Homo sapiens: one gene and its partner. The protein of the gene in region 1 interacts with the protein of each later gene in a biochemical or structural test. Each region holds a gene or a part of one and is shown on either strand. Other genes may lie near its edges. The genes, in order: GLE1 and NUP155.

Region 1 (13,773 bases):
CTCACACCTGCAATCCCAGCACTTTGGTAAGTCAAGGTGGGCAGATCACTTGAGCCCAGAAGTTCGACACCAGCCTGGGCAATGTGGAGAAACCTCACCTCTACAAAAAATACAAAAAAATTAACCAGGTGTGGTGGTGCGTGCCTGTAGTCCCTGCTCCTTGAGAGGCTGAGGTGGGAGTATTACCTGAGCATGAAAAGTTGAGGCTGCAGTGAGCCGTGATCACGCCACTGCACTCCAGCCTGGGGAACAGAATGAGAGCCTGTCTCTCAAAAAAAAAAAAAAAAAAATAGTCGGGCGTGGTGGCTCACGCCTGTAATCCCAACACTTTGGGAGGCTGAGGTGGGTGGATCACCTGAGGTCAGGAGTTTGAGACCAGCCTGGCCAACATGGTGAAACCCTGTCTCTAGTAATAATACAAAAATTAGCCGGGTGTGGTGGTCGACACCTGTAATCCCAGCTGCTCGGGAGGCTGAAGCAGGAGAATTGCTTGAACCCGGGAGGTGGAGGTTGCAGTGAGCTGAGATCGTGCCACTGCACTCCAGCCTGGGTGACAGAGCAAGACTCCATCTCAAAAAAAAGGCTGGGCACACAGTGGCTCACGCCTGTAATCCCAGCACTTTGGGAGGCTGAGGCGGGTGGATCGCCTGAGGTCAGGAGTTCGAGACCAGCCTGACTAACATGGAGAAAACCCCGTATCTACTAAAAGTACAAAATTAGCCAGGCATGGTGGTGCATGCCTGTAATCCCAGCTACTCAGGAGGCTGAGGCAGGAGAATCACTTGAACCTGGGAGGTGGAGGTTGTGGTGAGCCAAGATCGTGCCATTGCACTCCAGCCTGGGCAACAAGAGCGAAACTCCATCTCAAAAAAAAAAAAAAAAAAGACCAGCCTGGGCAACATATCAAGACTCCATCTCTATAAAAAATGAAAAAATAATTAGCTGAATATAGTGGCGCATGCCTGTACTCCCAGCTGCTGGGGAGACTGGTTGAGGTGGGAGGATAGCTTGAGCCCAGGAGGTCAGGCTACAGTGAGCCATGATTAGGTCACTGCACTCCAGCCTGGGTAACAGAGTGAGACCCTGTCTCAAAAATAATTAATTTTAAAAATGAAAAAATATATACATCTAGGTTTGTGTAAGGATGCTTTACGATACTCGCACAATGACAAGATCACCTAACCCTGTGTTTCTCAGAACTTACCCCCATTGTTAAGTGACTGACATTCTACTGATTGTGTATACAGTAGCTTACTTCAGAATTCCTCGTGTTCTGTTCAGTGCTTTAGATTGCTTTCACATATGCTTTAGTGGGAATCTTTGTGCATTGTCCCTTTTTCTGTAGTTAGGGTTATTTAGTCTGATTTTCATTAGAAGGATAGTAGTCTAGGTCATTATCAAGAAACCACTGTACTTTGTTTTCATCTGATTGTTAATACATTACTTTGGGTCTTTGATGTTTATTTATTTAGGCCTTCTTAGATGTTCAGTAAGGCATGTAGTGGATTATACTGAGAACAGTTGACGTGTAAGTTGAGCTTAACCCTATTCTTTTCTCTAGGATGTTTTAGAAGAATGTATGTCTCTTCCCAAGCTATCTTCTTATTCTGGATGGGTGGTAGAGCACGTCCTACCCCATATGCAGGAGAACCAACCTCTGTCTGAGACTTCGCCATCCTCTACGTCAGCTTCAGCCCTAGATCAACCCTCATTTGTTCCCAAATCTCCTGACGCAAGCTCTGCCTTTTCCCCAGCCTCCCCTGCAACACCAAATGGAACCAAGGTAAGGTTGTGATCAGCTTAAGACAAAAGACATGGTGGCTGCAAAGTCAAAATGTTTAATATTGTCATATGACAGTGACCATACCCTAGGGGAAATAATGATTGCTCATTGTTGTAGCTGTTGTAGAGACAATGTTGACAGCACCATTCAGTGTTCTCTTTAGACAGATCCAGAGGGAGAAAAATCCCCTCTATTCTTAGTACCGAGAATAGTATAACTAATTTCATGAGCAATTGGATTTTTTTTTTTTTCTGATGAACGCTGCGTCTGTTTAACTGATATGGTCTCCCTTTTTGTGTTATCTGCTGGAAGAAGGCTTAGAGTGAAATGTATACCTTCTCTTTAAGTTTACATGCCTTCTCTCATTGGTTCTGTAGGAGATTTTACCCTATTCCTGGCTCTGTTTTGTCCCTGCCTCTGTTTTTTTGTTATTTCTCCCACTTAAAAATGCTAAACTGGGGCCATTTCCTCTCAGAAGACCCCTCTCTCTCACTAGAGAGAGAACTATTTTCCTTTCTCTTTCTCTTGCCTATTAAACCTCCACTCCTAAACGCAAAAAAAAAAAAAAAAGTTAAATTGGACCCAACACAGTGGCTCATGTCCATAATTCCAGTGCTTTGGAAGGCCAAGACAAGAGGATTGCTTGAGCCCAGGAGTTCAAGACCAGCCTGGGCAACATAGTGAGACCTTGTCTCTCCAAAATACTTAAAAATTGGCTAGGCATGGTGGCTCGAGCTTGTTGTCCTAGCTACTTGGGACATTGAGATGGGAGGATCACTTGAGCCCAGGAGTTTGAGACTACAGTGAGCTGTGATCAAGCCATTACATTCCAGCCTAGGCAACAGAGTGAGTCCCTATCTCAAAAAAAAGTTAAATTTTGGAAGTTTTTTAAAATTACTTTTTATATACTTCTAGAGGTAGTTTGTGTATATACAAATATACGTGAACATGTCTTCTTCTTCACCCTCCCTTTTTTTTGAGCTGAGGTCTGTCTCTGTCAACCAGGATGGAGTGCAGTGGCATGAACATGGCTCACTGCAGCCTCCACCTCCCAGGCTCAATCCACCCTCCTGTCTCAGCCTCCCGAATAGCTGGGACTGCGTGTGGACACCACCATACTTGGCTATTTTCTTTTTCTTTTTTTTTTTTGAGACGGAGTCTTGCTCTGTCCCCCAGGCTGGAGTGCAGTGACGCAATTTCAGCTCACTGCAACTTCCGCCTCCCGGCTTCAAGCGATTCTCCCACCTCAGCCTCCTGAGCGGCTGGGATTACAGGCACCCACTATCACGCCCGGCTTATGTTTGTATTTTTAGTGGAGATGGTGTTTCACCATATTGGCCTGGCTGTTCTCAAACTCCTGACCTTATGATCTGCCCACCTCGGCCTCCCAAAGTGCTGGGATTACAGGTGTGAACCACCACACCCAGGCTTTTTTTTTTTTTTTTTTTTAAGATGGAGTCTAGCTCTGTCACCCAGGCTGGAGTACAGTGGCATGGTCTCGGCTTACTGCAACCTTTGCCTCCTGGGTTCACGCGGTTCTTCTGCCTCAGCCTCCCAAGTAGCTGAGATTACAGGTGTGCGCCACCATGCCTGGCTAATTTTTGTATTCTTAGTAGAGACAGGATTTTGCCATGTTGTCCAGTCTGGTCTCAAACTACTGACCTCAGATGATCTACCCACCTCGGCCTCCCAAAGTGCTGGGATTATAGTCGTGAGCCACTGTGCCTGGCCAGTTTTTTTTTTTTTTTTCTTTTTTACATAGAAAGTATTTTTTTTCTATCTAGTAGTTCATCTTTTAAAATATTAGTCTTTAAAAAATATTCTTTGTGGCCACGTGTGGTGGCTCACACGTGTAATCCCAGCACTTTGGGAGGCTGAGGCAGGTGGATCACTTGAGATCAGTAGTTCGAGAGCAGCTTGACCACAGTGAAACCCTGTCTCTACTAAAAATACAAAATTAGCTGGGCGTCGTGGCGCACGCCTGTAATCCCATCTACTTGGGAGGCTGAGGCACTAGAATTGCTTGAACCCGGGAGACGGAGGTTGCAGTGAGCTGAGATCATGCCATTGTACTCTAGCCTGGGTAACGGAGCAAGACTCAGTCTCAAAATATATGTATATATAGAGACTGAGTAAATAATAACAACAAAATAAATAATATATATATTATAAATATACATAAATATATATATTTATGTTGATTTTGTTGTTGTTGTTGTTGCCAGAAAAGGTCTAGGTACTTTAAAATATATATTTTTAGCAACTGAACGTCTTAAGGAAAAAAAGGAACCTCCACCTAAATGTCATACCTTATATAAAAATTAACTTGGCCGGGTGCAGTGGCTCACGCCTGTAATCCCAGCACTTTGGGAGGCCAAGGCGGGTGGATCACTAGGTCAGGAGATCAAGACCATTCTGGCTAACACGGTCAAACCCCTTCTCTACTAAAAATAAAAAAAAAAATTAGGCGAGTTGGCGGGCACCTGTAGTCCCAGCTACTCAGGAGGCTGAGGCAGGAGAATGATGTGAACGCGGGAGGCAGAGCTTGCAGTGAGCTGAGATTGCGCCACTGCACACCAGCCTGGGCGACAGAGCAAGACTCCATCTCAAAAAAAAAAAAAAATTAACGTGATCATGGACTTAAACATAAAAAAAAAACTGTAAGCCTTTTAGAACTAAAACATAACCAGAATCTAGGGCTGGGTGAAGATTTATTTCTTTATTTATTTTTGAGACGAAGTCTCATTCTTGTCCCCCAGGCTGGAGTGCAATGGTGCAATCTCGGCTTAATGCAACCTCCGCCTCCCAGGTTCAAGTGATTCTCCTGCCTCAGCCTCCCGAGTAGCTGGGATTATAGGCGCCTGCCACCATGCCTGGCTAATTTTTGTACTTTTAGTAGACGGGGTTTCACCATGTTGGCCAGGCTGGTCTCGAACTCCTGTTCTCAGGTGATCTGCCCAACTTGGCCTCCCAAAGTTCTGGGATTACAGGCGTGAGCCACCAGGCCCGGCCTGGGTGAAGATTTATTTATTTAACATTCCTGAATTAGCAGAACTGTAGAGAAGGAGAATAGCTTAGAGATGAGGGATGGGGGAGGAAGTGGTGAGGCTATAAATATAGGTGTGACATGGGGTGGTTGGTGGTGATAGAACAGCTTTGTATCTTGAGTGTGGTGGTGTTTACATGAATCTACATGTGATAAAATTACATAGAACTATACATAAGCACAAATGAATGCCTTTAAAACTGGTGAAATCTGAATAAGCTCTGTGGATTGTACCAATATCAATTTACTGGTTTTGTTATTTTATTGTATTTATGAAAGACATTACTATTGGGGGAGACTGGGTGAAAAGTACATGCGACCTTCCTGTATGTATTTTTGCAACCTTCTGTGAACATTAATTATTTAAAAATTAAAATTTTTAAAAAGTATTTTTATGAGCAGCTTCTTGGCAACAGATTCTGATCTGATCCTGCCAATATTGTGGCGTGCCCTCAGGTGGGCCTCTTTTCCTCAGTGGACTTCAGTGTCTTTATCTGTAAATCTCATTCTGGACCAAATTGCTGAGGTCTTTTTTTTTTTTAATATGGAGTTTCGCTTTTGTCGCCCAGGCTGGAGTGCAATGGCGTGATCTCGACTCACTGCAACCCCAGGTTCAAGTGATTCTCCTGCCTCAGCCTCTTGAGTAGCTGGGATTACAGGCACGCGCCACCATGCCTGGCTAATTTTGTATTTTTCGTAGAGACGGGGTTTCACCATGTTGGTCAGGCTAGGTGACCTCAGGTGATCCACCCGCCTTGGCCTCCCAACATGCTGGGATTACAGGCATGAGCCACCGTGCCCAGCCCGAGGTTATTTTCACGTATAAAATTCCGTAATTTTTGGAGCCACTGCGCCTGGCCTAATAAATTATTAAATGGTTTTATGTAATGGATTGTCACATTATTTAGGAATTTTTGGTATTTACGTAAGAAAAACCCAGTTTGGCTTAAGGGACTGAGGGAAGTATTAATTAGTTCATGTAACTAGGAAGTCTAGGAGTGCATTTGGAATCACCTAGATCTAGGAACATCTACATTCTGCATCTTTCTGCTTGACATTATTTATTATTATTTTTCAAACATCTCCCCCACATAGGATTGATTATTTTTGACTCAATCTAGTGTCCCAAACATGGGGCTTTGCCTCTCCATTTCTCAGTTATTGGTTTCATTGTTGAGATAGATTAGGTGGCAAGATGGCTACTGGTAGCCCTGGACTCAGCATCTTCTTAGGTTAGCATTCCCAGATAGCTTCATCAGAAAAGTTCAAAGATATCCATGTCAGGTGTGTTAATGAAAATAAAAAAGCTGGGTGTGGAATCCCAGGACTTTGGGAGGCCAAGGCAGGTGGAACATTTGAGCTCAGGCATTCGAGACTAGCCTGCGCAACATGGGGAAACTCCATATTTACAAAAAAATTACCTGAACATGATGGCTCATGCCTACGGTCCCAGCTACTCAGAAGGCTGAGGTAGGAGGATCCTTGATCCTGGAAGGTCATGGCTGCAGTGAGCCTAGATAGCACGACTGTATGCCAGCACGGGTGATAGAGTAAGACCCTGTCTCAAAAAAAAAAAAAAGAAAAGAAAAAAGGCGGGGTGCGGTGGCTCACGCCTGTAATCCCAGCACTTTGGAAGGCCAAGGCGGGTGGATCACGAGGTCAAGAGATCAAGACCATCCTGGCTAACATGGTGAAACACCATCTCTACTAAAAATACAAAAAAAATTATCCTGGCGTGGTGGAGGGTTCCTGTAGTCCCAGCTACTTGGGAGGCTGAGGCAGGAGAATGGCATGAACCCGGGAGGCAGAGCTTGCAGTGAGCCGAGATTGCGCTACTGCACTCCAGCCTGGGCAACAGAGTGAGACTCCATCTCAAAAAAAAAAAAAAAGAAAAAGAAAAAGAAAAAAAATAGGCCAGGCATAGTGGCTCATGCCTGTAATTGTAGCACTTTGGGAGCCTGAGGTAGGAGGCTTGCCTGAGACTAGGAGTTTGGGACCAGCCTGGGCAACATGACAAAACCCTGTCTCTACAAAAAAATACAAAAATTAGCCAGGTGTGGTGGCGTGCGCCAGTGGTCCCAGCTACTTGTGAGACTGAGGCAGGAGGATCAATTGAAGCTGGAAGGTCCAGGCTGTAATGATCCGTGATCACGCCACTATACTCCAGCCTGGGAAACAGAGTGAGATCTTGTTTCAAAAAAAAAAAAAAAAAAAAACTTAGAAAAGTTCAAAGATGAACTCTGGCCTTCAGGTCATATTTTTCATTCCTCAAGTCCATACTGGGTGTAGGAGGATAGCAGACTTTTTTTTTTTTTTTTTTTGAGACGGAGTCTCTGTATCCCAGGCTAGAGTGCAGTCGTACGATCTCTGCGCACTGCAAGCTCCACCTCCCAGGTTCACGCCATTCTCCCGCCTCAGCCTCCCGAGTAGCTGGGACTACAGGCGCCCGCCACCATGCCTAGGCACGTGCCACCATGCCCGGCTAACTTGTGTATGTTTGGTAGAGACAGAGTATGTCTTGTGTATGTTTAGTAGAGACAGGGTTTAGTAGAGACAGGGTATGTCTTGTGTATGTTTAGTAGAGACAGGGTTTCACCATGTTGGTCAGGATAGTCTCAAACTCCTGACCTTGTAATCCGCCCACCACAGCCTCCCAAAGTGCTGGGGAAAAAGGTGCCTGGCCTTTTTTTTGAGATGGAGTCTTGCTCTGTCGCCCAGGCTGGAGTGCAGTGGCGCGATCTCAGCTCACTACAGCCTCCGCCTCCTGGGTTCAAGGGATTCTCCTGCCTTAGCCTGCCTCCTCAGTAGCTGGGATTATAGGTGCGTGCCACCACGCCTGGCTAATTTTTGTGTTTTTAGTAGGGACGGGGTTTCACCATGTTGGTCAGGATGGTCTCGAACTCCTGACTTTGTGATCCGCCCACCTCTGCCTCCCAAAGTACTGGGATTACAGGCGTGAGCCACCACACCCGGCCTGAGGATAGAGTACTTTGATAGCCAGCTTTCTCCTGAAGCCAGGAGGATGGAAGCTTAGGGATGTAGGTTGGGGATACTCCATCCAAAGCATCCCAGGATAAATGGACACTGATCTGAAGAAAGGGGAAACATTTTCTAGGCAGAGTAAAACAAACAAGTCAAAAAAAACATAGAAAAACCCAAAAAATCACCCAAAGTAACAAACATCAATTTATTAAAGAAAACAATTAGAACAAAGTCAATGTCATTCATGAAAAGCACACTAGTTCTGACCTAAATTTTTTTTTTGCTCTTGTTATTGGTGGTTGTTCATAAGTTGGGATGTGGTCTTTGTCTAGAAGAGATAACACCAACTTTACCATATTAAAAACTTATTTTTTAATTATTTTTCCATTTTCTGCTCATATAGGGCAAAGATGAGTCCCAGCACACAGAATCTATGGTACTTCAGTCCTCACGGGGGATCAAAGTGGAAGGCTGCGTCCGAATGTACGAACTGGTACACAGAATGAAAGGAACAGTAAGTGAACCCATGAAGGAAGGCAGCCTTGATCCTGCGAGCCACATTTAACTGCAGTTCCCCAGGGCGTAGGAATGGGCACTGTATGCTACTCATCCTTCCCACCTACTGTTTAGTTTTGGGGGTAGTGTAATAGAGGTCAGGAGTGAGTGCTCTGAAGTCAAGTCTGGTTTCAGATCCTGGCTGTTACATTTTACATGTGACTTTGGGAAAATTACTTAGCCTTTTCTGGCTTCCATTTACTTCTCCAAAATTTGGAAATGGTCTGGGATTGTTAGATAAGCTTATTCTGAGAAAATGGGACCTTAGCCTCTTTTTTTTTTTTTTTGAGGTGGAGTTTTTGCTCTTGTTGCCCAGGCTGGACTGGACTACAGTGGTGTAATCTTGGCTCACTGCAACCTCCACCTCCCAGGTTCAAGTGATTCTCCTGCCTCAGCCTCCCAAGTAACTAGGATTACAGGCTCGCGCCACCACACCCAGCTACTTTATTTTCTATTTACTAGAGACGGGGTTTCACTATGTTGGTCAGGCTGGTCTCGAACTCCTGACCTCAGGTGATTCACCTGCCTCAGCCTCCCAAGGTGCTGGGATTACAGGCATGAGCCACGATGCCCAGTCAGGACCTTAGCCTCTTGAAAAAATAGCAGCACTATTTTAATTAATTTATTTGATTGTATTTTGTTTTTGTTTTTGTTTTTGAGATGGAGTCTTGCTCTGTTGCCCAGGCTGTAGTACAGTGGCACCATCTCGGCTCACCGCAAGCTCCGCCTCCCAGGTTCATGCTATTCTCTTGCCTCAGCCTCCCAAGTAGCTGGGACTACAGGTGCCTGTCACCACGCCCAGCTAATTTTTTGTATTTTTAGTGGAGACAGGGTTTTGCCGTGTTAGCCAGGACGGTCTTGATCTTCTGACCTCGTGATCTGCCCGCCTCGGCCTCCCAGAGTGCTGGGATTACAGGCATGAGCCACCGTGCCCGGCCTGTTTTTTGTTTTTGTTTTTTTGAGACAGAGTCTTGCTGTTGTCAGCCCGGGCTGGAGTGCAGTGGTGCAATCTTGGCTCACTGCAACCTCCGCCTCCTGGGTTCCAGCAATTCTCCTGCCTGAGCCTCCCAAGTAGCTGAGATTACAGGCGCCTGCCACCACGCCTGGCTAATTTTTGTATTTTTTAGTAGAGACGGGGTTTCACCGTGTTGGCCAGGCTGGTCTCAAACTCCTGACCTCAGGTGATCCACCCACCTCAGCCTCCCAAAGTGCTGGGATTACAGGCATAAGCCACTGCGCCCAGCATGTATTTTTTTTTAATTAGGAAAGCAATGCATGATCTTGTAAAAATGTTTCAGAGTACAGGAATTTAGAAAATGAAAGTCTTGGCCAGGCACGGAGGCTCATGCCCGTAATCCCAGCACTTTGGGAGGGTGAGGCAGGTGGATCACCTGAGATAAGGAGTTCCAGACTGGCCTGGCCAACATGGCGAAACCCCATCTCTACTAAAAATACAAAAATTAGCCGGGCATGGTGGCACATGCCTATAATACTAGTTACTGGGGAGGCTGAGGCAGGAGAATCACTTGAACCCGGGAGGCAGAGGTGGCAGTGAGCCAAGATTGTGCCACTGCACTCTAGCCTGGGCAGCAGGGCAATACTTTATCTCAAAAAAAAAAAAGAAAAAGAAAATGAAAGTCTTCTAACATCTTGCCTCATTGGTCATTGAGTCAATAAATATTTGCTGAGCACCTATGTGCTAGATGCTGTTCCAGGTCTAGATAAAACAGTAAACATTATAGACATAGAGCTTATATTGTGGTGGGAAGAGACAGAAGTAAACAAGAGAAATAAGTAAAATATTTGGAACATTGTTGTAATCTGGGTGAAAGATGGTGGTTGCTTAGAGTAGGGTGGTAGCAATGGAGATGGTGAGAAACGACTAATTCTGCATATCAGAGTTGTTTTAATTCAAAGATTTATTTCCTGCATCTTTGGAAATTTTTCCCCTTGATTAGTTCACCTCTCCATTGCCTAAGTTAATCCTCTATATGTCCTATTCTTTCTTTCATTTTCCTTTTGTCTTATTGTTTTGTTTTCTAGAAGATTTCTATATTTTATTCTCCACCTGTTGATTGAAAAAATATATATGTATTTATTATGTCTAATTTTCATGAGTTTTTTTGTATTCTCCACTTCTTCCTTTTTCAGAGCATCTTATTCTCATTTCTTATCATATTCAGAGCTCTTTTTCAGATTCACTTGTGTTCCTTGATATACATGTCCTTCTGGATTCATTATTTTTTATTTGTTCATCTTGATCCCTTTTAGGATATAGAGATTCCTCAGTTATCTAAAGATCCTTATTGCTAGTAATCAGATCAGAGATTCAAGGGGAATAATCAGAAACAAGGTTATTAAGCTTTAGGACTTCCTAAGTGCCAGCATATTGTTTTGGAATACTAGTTCCCATACTGATTAGCTGTTTCTGGACAGTTTATTCATTTTCTTAAAAAAAACTCACGTGCCTGGCCTATTTTTTTTTTTTTCCGTATTCTGTTAGTCACGGTAGTCATAAAGTCCACTCAGGTTGAAGTAGAGGGTATGGAAGGATTGTCAGACAATTTGCAGATCTGTTTTAAAATCATTACAGCACAGGGCCGGGCCTGTTGGCTCACACCTGTAATCCCAGCACTTTCGGAGGCCGAGGCAGGCAGATCACTTGAGGTCAGGAGTTTGACACCAGCCTGGCCAACACAGTAAAACCCTGTCTCTACTAAAAATACAAAAATTAGGCAGGCATAGTGGTGCACGCCTGTAATCCCAGCTACTCAGGAGGCTGAGGCTGGACAATCACTCGAACCTGGGAGGTGGAGGTTGCAGTGAGCCAAAATCGCACCACTGTACTCCAGCCTGGGTGACAGAGTTGAGAATCCGTCTCTAAAAAATAAAAAATAAAAATAAAATAGCTGGACATGGTGGCTTGCACTGGTAATCCCAGCACTTTGGGAGGCCGTGGTGGATGGATCACGAGGTCGGGAGTTCGAGACCAGCCTGGCCAACATAGTGAAACCCCGTCTCTACTAAAAATACAAAAATTAGCCAGGCATGGTGGCAGGCACCTGTAGTCCCAGCTACTTGGGAGGCTGAGGGAGGAGAATCGCTTGAACCCAGGAGGCGGAGTTTGCAGTGAGCCAAGATTGCACCACTACACTCCAGCCTGGGCGACAGAGCGAGACTCCAAAAAAAAAAAAAAAAGCTGGGCACTGTTGCGGGAAGTCAGGGACCCCAAATGGAGGGACTGGCTGAAGCCATGGCAGAAGAACATGGATTGTGAAGATTTCATGGACATTTATTAGTTCCCCAAATTAATACTTTTATAATTTCTTATGCCTGTCTTTACTGCAATCTCTAAACATAAATTGTAAAGATTTCATGGACACTTATCACTTCCCTAATCAATACCCTTGTGATTTCCTATGCCTGTCTTTACTTTAATCTCTTAATCCTGTCAGCTGAAGAGGATGTATGTCGCCTCAGGACCCTGTGATAATTGCATTAACTGCACAAATTGTAGAGCATGTGTGTTTGAACAATATGAAATCTGGGCACCTTGAAAAAAGAACAGGATAACAGCAATGTTTAGGAAACAAGAGAGATAACCTTAAACTCTGACCGCCGGTGAGCTGGGCAGAACAAAGCCATATTTCTCTTCTTTCAAAAGCAAATGGGAGAAATATCGCTGAATTCTTTTTCTCAGCAAGGAACATCCCTGGGAAGGAGAATACGCGCCTGGGGGTAGGTCTATAGATGGCCCCCTGCATGTGGCCGTCTTTTATGGTCTGTAGACTGTAGGGGTGACATAGACCCCAGTCTCCCATAGCGCTCCCAGGCTTATTAGGAAGAAGAAATTCCTGCCTAATAAATTTTGGTCAGACCGGTTGCTCTCAAAACCCTGTCTCCTGATAAGATGTTATCAATGACAGTGGTGCCTGAAACTTCATTAGCAATTTTAATTTCACCCTGGTCCTGTGGTCCTGTGGTCCTGTGATCTCGCGATCTCGCCCTGCCTCCATTTGCCTTGTGATATTCTGTTACCTTGTGAAGTACTTGATGTGTGTGACTCACACCCTATTCGTATACTCCCTCCCCTTTTGAAACTCCCTAATAAAAACTTGCTGGTTTTACGGCTTGTGGGGCATCACAGAACCTACCGACATGTGATGTCTCCCCCGGATGCCCAGCTTTAAAATTTCTCTCTTTTGTACTCTGTCCCTTTATTTTTCAAGCTGGCCAATGCTTAGGGAAAATAGAAAAGAACCTACATGACTATTGGGGCAGGTTCCCCAATAGGGCACCCGTGGCTTACACCTGTAATCCCAGCACTTTGGGAGGCTGAGGCGGGAGGATCACAAGGTCAAGAGATCGAGACCATCCTGGCCAACACTGTGAAACCCCGTCTCTACTAAAAATACAAAAATTAGCTGGGCGTGGTGGCACATGCCTGTAAACCCAGCTACTTGGGAGGCTGAGGCAGGAGAATCGCTTGAACCTGGGAGGCGGAGGTTGCAGTGAGCCGAGATGGTGCCAGTGCACTCCAGCCTGGGTGACAGTGTGAGACTGTGTCTCCAAAAAATATATATATATATGTATATATGTGTGTATATATATGTGTATATATGTATATATGTGTATATATGTATATGTGTGTATATGTGTATATGTGTATATATGTATGTGTGTATATATGTATATATGTATATGTGTATATATGTATGTGTGTATATATGTATATATATGTATATATGTATATATATGTATATATATATAAAAAATACAATAAAATCATTATAGCACAAATGCTTGGCTCTTGGCTGTTTTGATCTAATGACTAGGGGAAGACAGCAAGAGTTGACTGTTTTGTCTACAAACATTTAGCCGGTAGCTCCGTTTTCAGCCTGATGAGGCCCACCTATATGAGTCGTGGCATTTCCCAGTCTTGAGACTCTGCAGTTCGGCTGGTAGATTGGCTTTCTGCTCCCGTGAGGCATCGTCTGCTTCTCACACACATCGTGTGTGTGTGTGTGTATCCTTGGGTTTTCTCAGCTCTGCTCTATCATTTATTGCTTCTCCACTATTTTTTTTTTTTTAAAGACAGGGTCTCGCTCCGTTGCTCAGGCTGGAATACAGTGGTGCAATCACCGCTCCTTGCAGCCTTGACCTCCTGGGTTCAGGCATTCCTCCTACCTCAGCTCTTTCTGCTTTCTAAATAACTGGGACTGCAGGTGTGCACCACCACAGCCAGATAATTTTTAAATTTTTGGTAGAGACGGGGGTCTCTCTGTTGCCCAGGCTGGTCTCGAACTCCTGGGCTCAAGTGATCCTCCCACTTTGGCCTCCTCAAGTGCTGGGATTACAGATCTCAGCCAGTGCACCTGGCTATTTCTCCACTGACTGTTTTCCAGAA
Region 2 (17,332 bases), on another chromosome or scaffold:
CTGGATAAGAAGTGAGCATCTGATCAGCCAAGTCCACTGCTCCCATATTATCGTTATAATCCACAATGACACATGGCTTCTTAGTTTTCTTTCCATCTGTTGTCTACTTCAATCACAGTATCATTGTGGAATATTGACAACATTGTGACTGCCTTGTTGTCACACCATTTCAGTGCCATAAGTTCACCATGGAATTAACATCACACATAGGAATGCTATGTTTTCTAGGATTTGACATTTTCAGCAGTCGAGAATTACTATATTTTGTAAATGGAAATTCCACTACTAAAAACAGAATGCTATAAATAGAATAATGTCTTTTGTTTCCAAAGTCAATATAATAGAGTGATGCAAAAATAATAAAATAGTAGACACAAACTTTGGGGGTTAAGTCGGGACTGTAATCTGTGAGTTATCTTGGGGTAAAGGCTGCAGCTGCAAGCACCATCAGAGAGTATTCTCAGGGAAAATGGGAAATGGGTTAACAGTGGGTAAATCTACGGTGCCTGTAGTGTATTCGTTTTTTTGTTTTTTTGGTTTTGATACAGAGTCTCGCTGTTGTTGCCCAGGCTGGATTGCAATGGCGCAATCTTGGCTCACTGCAACCTCTGCCTTCCAGGTTCAAGCGATTCTCCTGCCTCAGCCTCCTGAGTAGCTGGGATTACAGGCATGCGCAACCAGACCGGCCAATTTTTTTTGTATTTTTAGTAGAGATGGGGTTTCCCCATGTTGGTCAGGCTGGTGTCTAACTCCTGACCTCAGGCAATCTGCCGGCCTCGGCCTCCCAAAGTGCTGGGATTACAGGCGTGGCCCACCACGCCCGGCCAAATTCTTACAATTTTATGTTGTCTTAGCATTTATTTTGAATATAAGTTGGACTTTCTCATATCAGAAACAGGGTTCAGTCACCCTTGACACCGTTTCTAGTTCTACACCTCCTCCCAGTTCCTCAATGTGATCAATCCAGGTATCTATTGTGTAAAACTTCCTCCTGGTGCCCGCCTCCCCATAGGATAAATACATACAGCCTACTTCACCGGCCCTGCTGACACTGACGTCCTACATGGACTGTGCAGATATGCCACAGTGACTACCTCGGTCACAGCATGACTTCCAAGAACGGGGTGTCCAATCTTTTGGCTTCCCTAGGCCACAATGGAAGAAGAAGAATTGTCTTGGGCAACACATTAAATACACTAACAACAGCTGAGAACTTTAAAAAAATCACAAATCTCACAATGTTTTAAGAAAGTTAACGAATTTGTGTTGGGCCACATTCAAAGCCATTCTGGGCTGACAAGCTTGTCCTCAAATTTGTGCATGCTTGCTTTAAACCCACCAATTAAAGTGTGGGAATTCCTCTTGGGAAATCTATTTGGAAAACACCATGAACCCAATAAATGCATTGGCTCATGAGTCCCTCTTTGTCTTTCCCTGACTGCATTCCTTGACCTCCAGGTGCGCCAGATGCCCCGCCAGGCATGTAAGTAATAAAATCTTTGTTTATATCTGTGTTTCTACTAATCATTGAAGAAGCATGCTCTATCTTAAAATTCCTAAATTAAAACAGTCCCTTAAAATAAATCAAGGCAGTAGGATTCAAAATGTTGTAGTAGTCACTGTATTTTTCAGTTACATAGGCGTTGTAAGCAAAATCAGTTTCCCTTAGGAATATCCTTAATAAAGCCATAAACAGTATTCATTTCGTTAAACCCTGACCCTTAATTATACGTCTTTTTAACCTTCAGTATGACAAAATGAGAAGTAATCATAAAGTATGTTTTTAAAAAAATTTCTTACAGATGGGGTCTCACTGTGTTACCCAGACTGGAGTGCAGTGGCTATTTACAAGTTCAGTCATGAAGCACTTTAGCCTCAAACTCCTGGACTCAAGCGATCTTCCCCTGCCTCAGCTTCCTGAGTAGATGGGACCACAGGCATACGCCACCATGCCCAGCTAATGCATATCTAAGTAGAATGGTCATCGAAAAGAAAACCACTTGTAATTGAGTGGTTAGCTTTTTTCATGGAACATTATTTTTACCTGAAAGAATGACTCACAAAGTACAGTTGTTCATATTTAAGTATTTGGCAAACATTTTTTCAAAAATAAATGAAATGAGTTTATCACTTTAAGAAAAACAGGTCAGGCATGGTGGCTTACACGGGTAATCCCAGCACTTTGGAAGCCGAGGTGGGAGGATCACCCAAGGCCAGGAGTTCGAGACCAGCCTGGCCAACATGGTGAAACCCCGTCTCTACTAAAAATACAGAAAATTAGCCAGGCGTAGCTGGGTGCGGTGGCTCACGTCTGTAATCCCAGCGCTTTGGGAGGCCAAGGCGGGTGGATCACCTGAGGTCAGGAGTTCAAGACCAGCCTGACCAACATAGTAAAACCCCCGTCTCTACTAAAAATACAAAAAAATGAGCTGGGCATGGTGGTATGTGCCTGTAATCCCAGCTACTCGGAAGGCTGAGGCAGAATTGCTTGAACCTGAGAGGCAGAGGTTGCAGTGAACAGAGATCATGCCACTGCACTCCAACCTGGGCAACAAGAGCAAAACTCCATCTCAAAAAAAAAAAATAAAGAAAAGAAAATTAGCCTGTAATTCCAGCTACTCAGGAGGCTGAAGCAGGAGGATTGCTTGAACCTGGGAGGCAGAGGTTGCAATGAGCTGAGATCGCACCATTGCACCCCAGCCTAGGCGACAAGAGCAAAACTCTGTTTAAAAAAAAAAAAAAACTGACTGCACTTGTTGACAATTATTAAAATACTTCTTCTTTTTCTAAATATGTAACTGAGGCCAGTTTTTCCTTCTTTCTTTCTTTCTTTTTTTTTGAGACAGAGTTTCGCTCTTGTAGCCCAGGCTGGAGTGCAATGGCACGATCTCAGCTCACTGCAACCTCCGCCTCCCAGGTTCGGGCAATTCCCCTGGCTTAGCCTCCCAAGTAGCCGGGATTACAGGCTTGCGCCACCATGCCCCACTGATTTTTGTATTTTTAGTAGAAACGGGGTTTCACCATGTTGGCCAGGCTAGTCTCGAACCTCTGACCTCAGGCAATCCACCCGCCTCGGCCTCCCAAAGTGCTGGGATTACAGGTGTGAGCCAGCGCGCCTGGTGAGGCCAGCTTTTCTTAATATTAATATATTATACTTCAACTAAATAAGTCACAAAATGTTGACATGTTAGACAAAGTAGCAAACATAAAAAACCAAGTTTGCTCATTCTGCTTGCCAGCAGAATTTCACAAAGCCCAACTCAGTGACTAAGTATAGACTTCTAGAAGAATGCCCTGGAAACAATAAGCAGGTTAGAGCACAGGTTCCCACGTCTCTTGCTTCAATCAATGCATTTTTTAAAAAAAGGTAAGTTCAGTGTTCCTACCCCTTGCCTCTTCCAGTACATAAGATAGTGTCCCATAGGATTCATGATTATGCCTCTGTAATCTATAACCAGATGTACTCTTACACCCAAACTTTGATGAGATTTTGCTCTAATGTAATTTATGAGCTTTTTTTTTTTTTTTTTTTTTTTTTTTTAGAGACAGAGTCTCCCTTTATCAACCAGACTAGAATGCAGTGGCATGGTCATGGCTCACTGCAACCTGGAACTCCTGGGCTAAAGTGATGCTCCTGCCTCAGCCCACCAAGTAGCTGGGACTACAGGTCCACACCTGGCTGCCCAGGTTGGTTTTGAATGCCTGGCCTCAAGAGACCCTCATGCATAGGCCTCTCAAAGTGCTAGAATTACAGGTGTGAGTCACTATACCCAGTTTATGAGCATGTTTAATGTAATTTCTGAGCACATGCAGAGCTTCCAACCCCTGACATGTAAGCTGTGGGCTAAAAGCTACTTTGGAGCAGTCTTAACAGAAACTCTCTGAAAGGTTGCAATCCTGAGTCTGAATCAAACTGACTTTAATTCTTTAAAAGAGGGTTATTTTTCTTCAATTGACAGCAGATACAGATATGAGAATCCAGCCATCCGTTACTGAGCCAGACACTAAAGAGATTTGCAAAAATATGAAATAATCGCATTCTTCTCCCTGTTTTAGAAACTATAGTGATTTCTCATTTTAAAAAAGTGTTATATTAACATGGATTAAGCTTGGTATGCTTTTTTTTTTTTTTTTTGAAACGGAGTCTTACTCTGTTGCCCAGGGTGGAGTGCAGTGGCACGATCTCGACTCACTGCAACCTCTGCCTCCTAGGTTCAAGTGATTCTCCTGGCTCAGCCTCCTGAACAGTTGAGACTACAGGCGCACGCCACCACGCCCAGCTAATTTTTGTATTTTAGTATAGACGGGGTTTCACCATATTGGCCAGGCTGGTCTCCAACTCCTGAACTTGTGATCCACCTGCCTTGGCCTCCCAAAGTGCTGGGTGCTGGGATTACAGGTGTGAGCCACTGTGCTCGGCCTTGTTACTCTTTTAAATACAATGTTAAACATTTTAATTTTCAGTTTGAGTTATTCACAAATATTAATAGATGTAACCAACATGAAACAAAAACTCTCTGGAATCCTGAATAATTTTTAAGGGTATCAAGGGGGTCCTAAGACCAAAAAAATTCATAATTATCTGTTCTAGGGAAGAGGTCAGCAAACTTTTCCTGTAAAGTGCCAGAGTCCGTATTTAAGGCTTTGCAGTCTTTTGTAGAAATTACTCGGTTTAGCAGTTGTAGTGGGAAAGCATAGGCAATATGCCAATGAATTAAGTTAGTTAGATTACACTTTGGGGAGCTTTACTTCTATGCAGGAATATCACAGCAACGTTGTTGAATCTTCCAATTTATGGAGTTGAAAACTTTGTGTATTTTGTCTCAAATTAAAAACAAACTCGGTGCCAGACCACCACTTTTCAATCTATGGTCTACCAAATAAAGTAAACTCACAGCTAGAGACCCAACTGCCTATCTATATACCAATGATAAAAAATCCAGTTTTTCTTGGTATATTGGCTATGTCAAATTTTAAGTGTAGATTGGTAACATCAAAGAACTTTCAATTTTCAGAAATGTAGTCAAGTCTTTGAGGGAGTAAAAATGTAATTCAAATAGCAAAAGACCAATTTAGAGTAATTCAGTTATTGATTTGTGAAATTCTGAAGAACATAACTGGAAGCTTTCTTAGGTGAGATTCTAAATAAGAGCAGCTTTCTAAAAAGTGCTTTGATTTACCCACTCAGGTTGCCTTCTGTAGTAAATGAAGCCTCTTTTACCTCTCTGCTTTCTCCTATCCTGCTATAGTTTATACCTATCCAAATAGAAAAATTATAATGAAGCCCTTTGTCTCTGCTTGAAGCACCTTAAGGACAGGAAACACTGTGTTAGTTTGATAGTCCCAGCACCAGGCACAAGGCAAGTATTCAGTTTCTTAGGATTGTATGAACTCTTGGGTTCCTATCTCATACGAGTTCCTATACTAGCGCTGGGAATGGAAAGATGAATTAGAACTGTCTGCTATCTCTGCCACGATAAAAAGCACGGCAGCGGTCCACCTGCACTCAGCTTCTTCTTAAACACGTATTTTATACTAAGGGGCAACAAAGTCAAAAGACAGCGACACGCAAATGGAAAAGCCTGATGAATTCTAATTTACACTGAAGCCCGCGAAGAATATAGTGAGATACTGGTTTATATCCCTCTCTGTGACAGCGACCTACCAATTCTTAACTACTCTCACAAAAGCAGTTACTTGGAGAACCAAACTGCGCGCTCATGCGCGAACTCATATAGCTGCAGTTAGCGGATACCGACGCGGGAAGTTCCAAGACTCAGGTCGAGCACGCGCTTAAACCAACGGAACCTGACCAACCTCCTAGGCCAGACACACGACCTAGCTCCCACCTACCGTATCCCTCCTCCCTCCTTCCTCCTCACCCTATCCAACCCCATCCCGCCCCTCTCCTTCCCTGTTCCCTCCCCTTTATCCTTCCCTTCCTTTCCCTCCCTCCCTTCCCTAAATAACCTACCCTAATTTTACCCTGCCACACCCCAAAACCCTCAACCCCCTCGAAAGCATCAGCAGCCTCCTAGCTCCACCCACAACCTCTAGCCCCCTCCCAACAGCTTCCTCTTCCCAGGCCAGAACGGCGTCTTCCAGTTCCCCACCGGATGAAGCGGAAGTGCGTCATGTCGAGGCGCCAAGGCGCTCGTTTGGCGCGCGCGCCCTAGGCGGCGGATCTAAGCTAACTTCTTGGATCTTTTCTTGTTTCTCCTTGGTTTTTGACTTTTTCTGGACCCTGGTGTCTACGATTTCCGAGATGCCGTCTTCTTTGTTGGGCGCGGCGATGCCGGCCTCTACATCTGCCGCAGCCCTGCAGGAAGCTCTGGAAAATGCTGGACGGCTCATCGACCGTCAGTTGCAAGAGGACCGCATGTACCCGGACCTTTCCGAGCTGCTTATGGTGTCTGCCCCAAGTGAGTGATAGTGACCCTGCTTTCTCAACCTAAAGGACTCTCGCCTGACTTCCTAATTTGCTACTTATCCCCAGCGTTGGTCCCGGCGAGGATATGCTGAGATTTATGGCACTGTTGGCTGCATTTTTGGAGAACAGCAAGCAGCTTCTTTTCAGGTTTTTTCCTTTCCTCACTTTCTTCATTGTAGATACTTGAGAGGGCAAGAGTGAAGAGCAAGCTCCCAGTTGAAGCAGAAAGAGGCAAAGACCTCAACCTTAATGAGCTTCTCGCCGCTCTCAAGTGCTTATGGCTAAGGCCATATGAGAAGCATCTCCAGATCCAAGTCCCAAATTTGTTCATTTCTCCTGTTAGTGTTTGAGTAGATCGTAAGAGCAAACGAAGTTAATTTGGAAATTTAGCATGTTATCTTAAAGATACGCTTTGCTTTATATTTATTTGTTTATTTATTGAGACGGAGCGGTTCCCTCTTCGCCCAGGCTGAAGTGCAATGGCGCGATCTCGGCTCATTGCAACCTCCGCCTCCTGGGTTCAAGCGATTCTTCTGCCTCAGACTCCCAAGTAGCTGAGATTACAGGCGCCTGCCACCAAGCCCGGCTAATTTTTGTGTTTTTTAAGTAGAGACGGGGTTTCACCATATTGGCCTGGCTGGTCACGAACTCTGACCTCAAGTGATCCGCCCGCCTCGGCCTCCCAAAGTGCTGGGATTACAGGCGCAAGCCACTGCACCCGGCCAAGAAACGCTTTATTATGTGTAGAGATGTGTGTTATGAAATGCTGGAGGATCTTAAAAGAACTACCAGTGGAATAAAGAAAGAGAACAGGGAAATCACAGTGCTTATGTACAGGGAGAGTAAGGCAGAATATGTGTTGACAATATAGGTGACTGGAAAGTAATTTGTTTAACAGTTTTAAGTTATAACCAGCTCCCCACGGCTTATGGAATTACATCAGTTGCTAGAAAAAGTGACCCCTTTGTGAGATGGAATTTGGAGAAAACCAGCGAAGTGTAAGAAAGAAAAGATTGTTGGTGAGCAAGAACCAAAGTAATCTAAATAGGATAATTTGTGCAGTGTAAACCGAGAACACTTCTGATTATTTATAAAAATCATTGATAGCTTTGTAATCAAAGAAATGATAGAAACAAAGATAGTATTTGCTCCCTACAGCTACTTACCAATGAGCGTGTCTTATAATACCTGATTGGCCTATTAGCAATTATCATCTTGAACAACATTACTCATTTTGGCCTCCTTAGGTGTGAAAACAAGATATAAAAACAGTGCATGCATTCTGGTCCTTCTCTTACATATCTCATGCCTTTACACACACCTTCCTCTTTCACCCAGTCTCTTCCCCTTCTTTTCCATCCAATTTTTCATCCGTTGCTCTGATTACAGAGAATTTAGCATATTTTCCGTAAGAAGCCCCATCTTCAGGATTTCCTCAGGATTTTATCTTACTTTTATTGTTTCTGCAATGTTCTTTTTTTGCCTGACAAACTTTTTCCAGACTCCCTGTGAAAGTCCTTAGTTTCTCTTTGTTGTCTTTCTTTTTCTTGTTCTTTTTTTTTGAGTCAAGGTCTAGTTCTGTTACCAGGCTGGAGTGCAGTGGCATGATCACAGCTCATTGCAGCCTCTAACTCATGAGCTCAAGTGGTCCTCCCGCCTTGCCCTCCCCAGTAGCTGGGACTACAGGCGCCTGCCACCACACCCAGCTAATTTTTAATTTTTATGTAGAGACGTAGTCTCACTCTGTTACAAGGCTGGTCTCAAATTCCTGGCATCAAGCAGTCCTCCTACCTCAGCCTTCCAAAGTGCTGAGATTACAGATGTAAGTCACACTCCTGGCCTGAAGTCTTTCGTAGCATTCCCATCCTCACTAAAGTTATCGATTCCTCCCTCTGTGTTCCCACTGCCATTTAACATGGTGATCTGCCACCTTCGGCCTATTAAAGTTATGTTTTAGGATTAAATGGGATGTCTGGATTTGCTTTATTTATTTATTTTTTGAGACAGAGTCTTACTGTCACCCAGCCTGGAGTGCAGTTGGCATAATCTTGGCTCACTACGGCCTCCACCTCCCAGGTTCAAGCGATGCTCCTGCCTCAGCCTCCTGAGTAGCTGGGATCATAGGTGTTCGCCACTGGCTCATTTTTCTATTTTTAGTAGAGACAGGGTTTCACCGTGTTGGCCAGGTTGGTCTTGATCTCCTGACCTCATGTGATCCGCCCGCCTCGGCCTCCCAAAGTGTTGGGATTACAGGTGTCACCCACTGTGCCCAGCCTGGATTTGCTTTAATATGAATTCAGCCCAATAGTCTCAGCACTTTGGGAGGCCAAAGTGGGCAGATTACTTGAGCCCAGAAGTTTGAGACCAGTCTTGGCAATATGGCAAAACCCAGCCTCTTAAAGAAAAGAAATACAATAATACAAAAATTAGCTTGGCATGGTGACACACACTTGGACCCCCAGCTACTTGGGAGGCTGAGGTGGGAGGATAACTTGAGACGGGGAGGTTGAGACTGCAGGGAGCTGTGATTGCGCCGCTGCACTCCAGCCTGGGCAACAGAGTGAGACCCTGTCTCAAAAAAAAAAAAAAAAAAAAAAAAAAAAGGCCTGGCGCTGTGCCTCATGCCTGTAATCCTAGCAATTTGGGACCTGGAAGTGGGGTGGATCACTTGAGCTTGAGTTTGAGACCAGCCTGAGTGAGCAACATGGCAAAACCCTGTCTCTACAAAAAGTGGCTGGGTGCGGTGGCTCACGCCCATAATCCCAGCACTTTGGGAGGCTGAGGTGGCAGATCACGAGGTTAGGAGTTCAAGACCAGCCTGACCAACGTGGTAAAACCCCGTCTCTACTAAAAATACAAAAATTAGCTGGGTGTGGTGGCTCATGGCTGTAATCCCAGTTATTCAGGAGGCTGAGGCAGGACAATCGCTTGAACCAGGGAGGCGGAAGTTGCAGTGAGCCGAGATCGCGCCACTGTACTCCAGCCAGGGCAATAGAGGGAGACTCTTTCTCAAAAGAAATGGGAGGCCCAGGTGGGCGGATCACGAGGTCAGGAGATGAGACCATCCTGGCTAACATGGTGAAACCCCCATCTCTACTAAAAATACAAAATAATTAGCCGGGCGTGGTGGCGGGCGCCTATAGTCCCAGCTACTCCGGAGGCTGAGACAGGAGAATGGTGTGAACCCGGGAGGCGGAGCTTGCAGTGAGCCGAGATCGCGCCACTGCATTCCAGCCTGGGCGACAGAGTGAGACTCCGTCTCAAAAAAAAAAAAAAAGGAAAAAGAAAAATGCTGTTTGGCTGGGCTCGGTGGTTTACTCCTGTAATCTCAGCAATTTGGGAGGCAAAGGTGAGTGGATCACTTGAGGTCAGGAGTTTGAGACTAGCCTGGCCATCATGGCGAAATCCTGTCTCTACTAAAAATACAAAAATTAGCCGGGTGTGGTGGCACACTCCTGTAGTCCTGGCATCTCGGGAGGCTGAGGCAGGAGAATCTCTTGAACCTGGGAGGCAGAGGTTGCAGTGAGCCGCCATTGCACTACAGCCTGGGCGACAGAGCGAGAGCCCATCCCAAAAAAAAACCCCAAAAACAAAAAAAAAATTAGCTAGGCATGGTGTCATGACACTGTAGTCCTAGCTACTCACGAGGCTGTGGTGGAAGATTGCTTGAGCCCAAGAGGCTGAGGTTGCCCTGAGCTGTGATTGCACCACTGCATTCCAGCCAAGGCGACAGAGTGAAACCCCGTCTCAGGAAAAAAAAAAAAAGAGAAAAAGAGTTCGGCCGGGTGCAGTGGCTCACATCTGTAATCCCAGCACTTTGGGAGGCCAAGGCAGGCGGATTACGAGGTCAAGAGATTGAGACCGGCCGGGCACGGTGGCTCACGCCTGTAATCCCAGCACTTTGGGAGGCCGAAGCGGGCAGATCACGAGGTCGGGAGATCGAGACCATCCTGGCTAACACGGTGACACCCCGTCTCTACTAAAAATAAAAAAATTAGCCTGGCGTGGCAACAGGCGCCTGTAGTCCCAGCTACTTGGGAGGCTGAGACAGAAGAATGGCCTGAACCCAGGTGGTGGAGCTTGCAGTGAGCTGAGATCAGGCCACTGCACTCCAGCCTGTGAGACTCCGTCTCAAAAAAAAAAAAAAAAAGATTGAGACTATCCTGGCCAACATGGTGAAACCTTGTCTCTATTAAAACTACAAAAATTAGCTGGGCGTGGTGGCTCATGCCTGTAATCCCAGCTACCCGGGAGTCTGAGGCAGGAGAATCCCTTGAACCAGGGAATTGGAGGTTGCAGTGAGCTGAGATCGCGCCAATGCACTCTAGCTTGGCGTCAGAGCGAGACTCCGTCTCAAAAAATAAAAATAAAAAGATAATTGGGGAAGGAGTGAACAATGATAAAAATGAAACATGATTGGGGATATTACTGGTTATTAAGTTGGATAATCAGTACATGGGTATTTATTGTATTTTTCTTATATATATTTTAAAAATTTCCATAATACACTTCAAGATTGTTTTATATGTCAGTTTTCCTTAACATCTTTGTACTCTATAGAACCTGAGAAAGTGCCTGAGATAAGTAGGTCATCAGTCAGGTCTAAATAACGCCTTGTCCGGGAGCAAGGGTAGGCTGAGTAGACCAGCCCACTCCTGTCCTTAGTGATGGAGTCTTAGAGCAAGAGAAAGGTTGCCCATGAGAACACTTTATAGAGCAGTCTTTGTTTTTATCCCCCCAATAAGATACTGCTTGTGGGGTATTATTTGTATTTGTCTTAGTGGTCTTGGGGATAAATCTAAAGGGAAAAGTCATGGGTTGTTTTAATCTATAAATGTTTAGCTGGTAAAGGCAGTATTTTCCCCCAGTCATTATTTTGTTTGCTTATAGTCATTTTACCTTTGAGCCCCAAAGCAGTTTTATATTTTCCCATTTCAGATTAGCAAAATGATAGAAAAACACTAAATTATTATTTTTAAATTTTTTTATTTTTAATTTTGTGTGTACATAGTAGGCGTCTGTGTGTGTGTGTGTGTGTGTGTGTGTGTGTGTGTGTGTGTATATATATATATATTTTTTTTTTTTTTTTTTTTTTTTTTCTCCCCGAGACAGAGTCTTGCTCTGTCACCCTGGCTGGAGTGCAGTGGCACGATCTTGGCTCACTGCTGCCTCCGCCTCCCAGGTTCAAGCAGTTCTCCTGCCTCAGCCTCCCAAGTAGCTGGGATTATAGGTGCTTGCTACTGTGCCTGGCTAATTTTTTTGTATTTTTAGTGGAGACAGGGTTTCACCATTTTGGCCAGGCTGGTCTTGAACTCCTGACCTTGTGATCGGCTTGCCTCTGCCTCCCAAAGTGCTGGGATTACAGGCGTGAGCTACCGCGCCCAACGGTGTATATATTTATGTGGTGCATGAGATGTTTTGATACAGGCATGCAATGTGAAATGATCACATCAGGGAAAATGGGGTATCTATCCTCTCAAGCATTTATCCTTTGTGTTACAAACAATACAATTACATGCTTTCATTTTGTTTATTTATTTATTTATTTATTTTTGAGACAGAGTCTTGCCCTGTCGCTCAGGCTGGAATGCAATGACACAATCTCAGCTCACTGCAACTTCCGCCTCCCGGGTTCAAGCAGTTCTGCCTCAGCCTCCGCAGTAGCTGGGATTATAGGCGCACGCCACCAGGCAGGCTAATTTTTTGTGTCTTTAGTAGAGATGGAGTTTCACCATGTTGGCCAGGCTAGTCTCAAACTCCTGACCTCATGATCCTCCTACCTCGGCCTCCCAAAGTGCTAGGATTACAGGCTTGAGCCACTGCGCCCAGCCACTTTTATTTTAAAATAACACTAAATTATCAAATTTAAACATTTCCAGCTGGGCACGGTGGCTCACACCTGTAATCCTAGCCTTTTGGGAGGCCGAGGCGGGCGGATCATGAGGTCAGGAGATCAAGACCAGCCTGGCTAACACGGTGAAACCCCGTTTCTACTAAAAATACAAAAAATTAGCCGGGTGTGGTGGCGGACGCCTGTAGTCTCAGCTACTTGGGAGACTGAGGCAGGAGAATGGCGTGAACCCGGGAGGTGGAGCTTGCAGTGAGCCGAGATTGTGCCACTGCACTCCAGCCTGGGCGACAGTGCGAGACTCTATCTCAAAAAAAAAAAAAATAAAATAAAATAAACATTTCCTTTGTTACAGAGCAAGTTTTTTGAGATATGACTTTCCCTTTAGGCCTGAAACCAGTAACTGTTCCTACCTTCACAAGGGAATATTTCAGGACTACTTTGTGTTGGGTCAAAACTAGAATATTCTCTCTGTACCTTTGGAACCAACACACAACAATTTTTTTGTGGCACTCAATCCTTTTGTTTGCCCGGTTGATGAGCAGTACATTATTATAAATACTTCATTTTCTTTTTGTAGATAATCCCACCGTTTCTGGCATGTCAGATATGGATTATCCTTTGCAAGGACCTGGTTTGCTGTCCGTACCCAACCTTCCAGAGATCAGTTCCATCCGAAGAGTTCCTCTCCCACCTGAACTTGTTGAGCAGTTTGGACGTATCCTATTACTTTGTATTTATTTTAAAAATGTTAAAATTGGTATTTTTCATTCTTATAATTCTTGTTCTATGTTTAATTAATGTGTTATATATTCATTTAAGGGTTTTATTTAAAATTCGTTTAAGTATATGGGTTCCATGTTGTATTAAAGAGTGGACACATTGTGATTTTTTACGTAAATATTAAGTCAAAAGCTATTGAAACAAGTTAAAGAAGAATAAGATTCACCTCTGTCTGCCTTACATCCACACTACCTCAGATATGCAGTGTAATTGCATGATGGGTGTGTTCCCTCCTATCAGCAGAGCTTGGCTCACAATTGACAGTGATATATTCATGTGGAACTATGAGGATGGGTATGTATTTAAGGCTGGTTTGCTTTAAGGGTGATTGGAATTTATATAAACTTTACTGTAGCTAGTGTTCTCATTAGAAGCTGCTTGGTTTATCTTTCATTCATCTAGCCTTTGGGTCAGTGCTTCTCAGTATCAGTCATCTGGAGATGTTCAAATGTGCATTCTGTCTTAGTAGTCCTGAGTGAGGCTCAAGAGTCTGCATTTCTAACAAGCTGCCAACTGCTGCTGCTGGTTTAGGTGCCATTCTTGAGTGGCAGGAGCCCGGGTCCCAAGCTGTTAGCCCGTAGTAAAAATAGATGTTGGCAATTCATTGAGAGATGATTGGACATTTTTAAAGACTTCTGTTTTCCTTGCATTTCTATGGAGTAGGCATGTGATATTTATTTATTTTGTTGTCATTTTGTGAATTTGACCCGTGTGTAAATTATATGTATAGAAATGATTCTGAGTGAAAGCCTAAGGTACTTTTGCTTAAATACAGCATGTTGGTCTGGTGATCTCCCTGTTGACTTTTTAGAGATAGATTTTGTTTTACTTCCAGTTGTCCATTACATTATCCTTAGATGAGGTGTGGGATAAACATAGGAAAGCCCATATAATTAAGATGTTACTCTTGTTCCTGAGTAATTAATGATCTTTTTAGGAACACACGTGCATTAAAAAGACACTGTATCGGCCGAGCACGCTGACTCAAACGCCTATAATCCCAGCACTTTGGGAGGCTGAGGTGGGTGGATCACCTGAGGTCAGGAGTCCGAGACCAGCCTGGCCAACATGGAGAAACCCTGTCTCTACTAAAAATACAAAAATTAGCCAAGTGTGGTGGCACATGCCTGTAGTCCCAGCCACTCGGGAGCTGAGGCAGGAGAATTGCTTGAACCTGGGAGATGGAGGTTGCAGTGAGCTGAGATAGTGCCACTGCACTCCAGCCTGAGTGACAGAGCGAGACTCCATCTCAGAAACAACAACAACAAAACACTGTATTATTGAAACAAAATTGAAACTAAATGACAGCTTAACACCTATAGCTTAAACGAAACCATTTTTTTCTACTAGAAGTTTCGTAGCAATTTTTCATGTTGAAATGTAATAGTTGTAATAGCAGTGATGTATGATTGTGATTATTTTTCATGTACCCTGAATGTTCCCCACTTTGTTATGTTACCATAACATATTCATTTTTATACTAAATAATGAAACCTTTTTTGTTTAGGTATGTATCTTTTCAAGAGAAGTCATTGCAAAAATATTACAGAACAGATAAATGTGAGAATAATTGTTTTCTTTAAAATATGTTTTCGGCTGGGCATGGTGGCTCATGCCTGTAATCCCAGCACTTTAGGAGGCCAAGGCAGGCAGATCACCTGCAGTCGGGAGTTCGAGACCAGCCTGACCAACATGGAGAAAGCCCATCTCTACTAAAAATACAAAATTAGCCTGGCATGGTGGCACATGCCTGTAATCGCAGCTACTCGGGAGGCTGAGGCAGGAGAATCACTTGAACCTGGGAGGCGGAGGTTGTGGTGAGCCGAGATCGCGCCATTGCACTCCAGCCTGGGCAACAAGAGGGAAAACTCCATCTCAAAAAAAAAAAAACACTAATGAAATTTTTTACATTTCCATTAACATCCAACATATTTATTTAACACATACATATTGATCTTATGTATCTGACACTGTTGTTGTGGTAGGAACAGTACTGAATGAGATGAATGTAGTTCTGCCCTCATGGAACAAACAGTCCTACCTTACTGTGTGTCTTAGTCCGAGCTGCTAAAACAGAATACCATAGCCTGTGATCAACATGAATTTCTTTCTCATGGTTCTGGAAGCTGGAAGTCCAAGATCAAGGTCTGGTGAAAGCCCACTTCAATGTTCATAGATGGCTATCTTTTCACTCTGTCCTCACATGGCAGAGGGGTAGGGGAGTTCTTTGGGTCCTCTTTTATAAGGGCACTAATCCCATTCATGAGATATACCCTCATGACCTAATAACCTTTCAAAGACCCCACCTACAAATACTATCACATTAAGAGTTAGGATTTAATATGAATTTTAGGAGGACACAGATATTTGATCCATAGCAGTGTGTGTTCATTTAAAGAAAAATTATTTGAAGAATGTACTTATTTTAAAAAATCAAGGCACAAGGTCCACAAATTCAATTTTGTAAAATTTATACTTAGTTTAAATATTCAATTGGCTTTCTATTATAAATCCTAATTCCACCTGGATGATAAAAATGTAATCTTGGTCATTTCATTGTTCTCTAACCCCCAAATATCTCAGCATTGGATCGTAGTTCCAAGAGGCTGTGCCAGTTATCAAAGGGCCCTGTGGAATGGCATGATGTAAGAGGATGGGGAATCCTAGTCCGCATAAGTTGCCATTTAGCTATTTTGTTCCTGTGTGGATGGCCTTTTCAGGATGACTGGAAGCTTTCTTGAAAGTCTAGATCATATTTTTTCGTGGTATTTTTTCTGCTTCTTGTTCTCTGAGCTTCTTAGATCTTTAGTTTGATGTCTTCTATTATTTTTAGAATTTTTTTCAGCTGTTATCTTTATTTCTCTCTCTCTCTCTCCTTTTCTGTTCAGCCATTGTCTTTTTTTTTTTTTTTTTTTTGAGACAGAGTCTCGCTCTGTCGCCCAGGCTGGAGTGCAGTGGACTATCTTGGTTCACTGCAACCTCCACCTCCTGGGTTCAAGCACTTCTTGCCTCAGCCTCTGGAGTAGCTGGGACTACAGGTATGGGCCACCACACCTGGCTAATTTTTGTATTGTTATTAGAGATGGGGTTTCACTATATTGACTAGGCTGGTCTTGAACTCCTGGCCTCCAGTGATTTGCCCTCCTGGGCCTCCCAAAGTGCTGGGATTACAAGCATGAGCCACCGCACCCAGCCCAGCCATTATCTTGAAATATTCTGATACATTCTCTTTCTTCAGAAATTTCAGCTATACTTTTGTTATATACCTCATTTTGGATGCTCCATTCTGTTTTTTGTTTTTCCACTTTCTGTCTCTATCTCCCTGTTTTTTGGGAGACGGAGTCTCAAAGTGCTGGGATTACAGGTGTAAGCCACTGCGCCTGGACCCCCCCCCCTTTTTTTTTATCTCATTCCGTTGCTGAGGCTGGAGTGCAGTGGCATGATCTCGGCTCACTGCAGCCTCAACCTCCTGGGTTCAAGTGATTCTCCTGCCTCAGCCTCCCGAGTAACTGGGATTATAGGCATGCACCACCACACCCGGCTAATTTTTGTATTTTTAGTGGAGACGGAGTTTCACCGGGTTGGGCAAGCTGGTCTCGAATTCCTGACCTCAGGTGACCTGCCCACCTCAGCCTCCCAAAGTGCTGGGATTACAAGCGTAAGCCACCGCACTTGGCCTTCATTGGCTTTTTTTTTTGAGACTGAGTCTCATTCTGTTGCCCAGGCTGGAGTGCAGTGGCAAGATCTTGGCTGACTGCAACCTTCTCCTCCCTGGTTCAAGTAATTCCCCTGCCTCAGCCTCCTGAGTAGCTGGGAATACAAGCGTGTGCCACCATGGCCAGCTAATTTTTTTTTGTATTTTAGTAGAGACGGGGTTTCACCATGTTGGCCAGGACGGTCTCGATCTCCTGACCTCGTGATCCACCCGCCTCAGCCTCCCAAAATGCTGGGGATTACAGGCGTGAGCCACCACACCCAGCCTCGCTGACTTCTTATAATTTTTATCTTTTTGTCGAAATTCTTTACCTATTTTTTTTTGTCTGTTTTATTTCTCCCTTTTTTTTGAGACAGAGTCTCGCTCTGTTGCCCAGGCTTGAGTGCAGTGGTATCATCTTGCCTCACTGCAACCTCCACCTCCCAGGTTCAAGTGATTTTCATGCCTCAGCCTCCGGAGTAGCTGGGATTACAGGCCTGGGACACCATGCCTGGCTAATTTTTTCTATTTTTAGTAGAAACAGGTATCATTGTGTTGGCCAGGCTGGTCTTGAACT

The links.
Region 2: the proteins of GLE1 (region 1) and NUP155 form a complex in vitro, tested with the Homo sapiens proteins (2 studies listed by BioGRID).

The regions. Positions count from the first base shown.
Region 1 is NC_000009.12:128,507,315-128,521,087, forward strand, and holds part of GLE1 (mRNA export factor GLE1), read left to right. Parts: coding exon of another isoform or gene 1-26; intron 27-1,561; coding exon 1,562-1,783; intron 1,784-8,214; coding exon 8,215-8,325; intron 8,326-13,773. UniProt on the Homo sapiens protein: Required for the export of mRNAs containing poly(A) tails from the nucleus into the cytoplasm. May be involved in the terminal step of the mRNA transport through the nuclear pore complex (NPC).
Region 2 is NC_000005.10:37,359,911-37,377,242, reverse strand, and holds the start of NUP155 (nuclear pore complex protein Nup155), read left to right. Parts: upstream 1-6,136; 5' UTR 6,137-6,265; coding exon 6,266-6,422; exon of another isoform or gene 6,423-6,577; intron 6,578-12,858; coding exon 12,859-12,996; intron 12,997-13,258; coding exon 13,259-13,355; intron 13,356-17,332.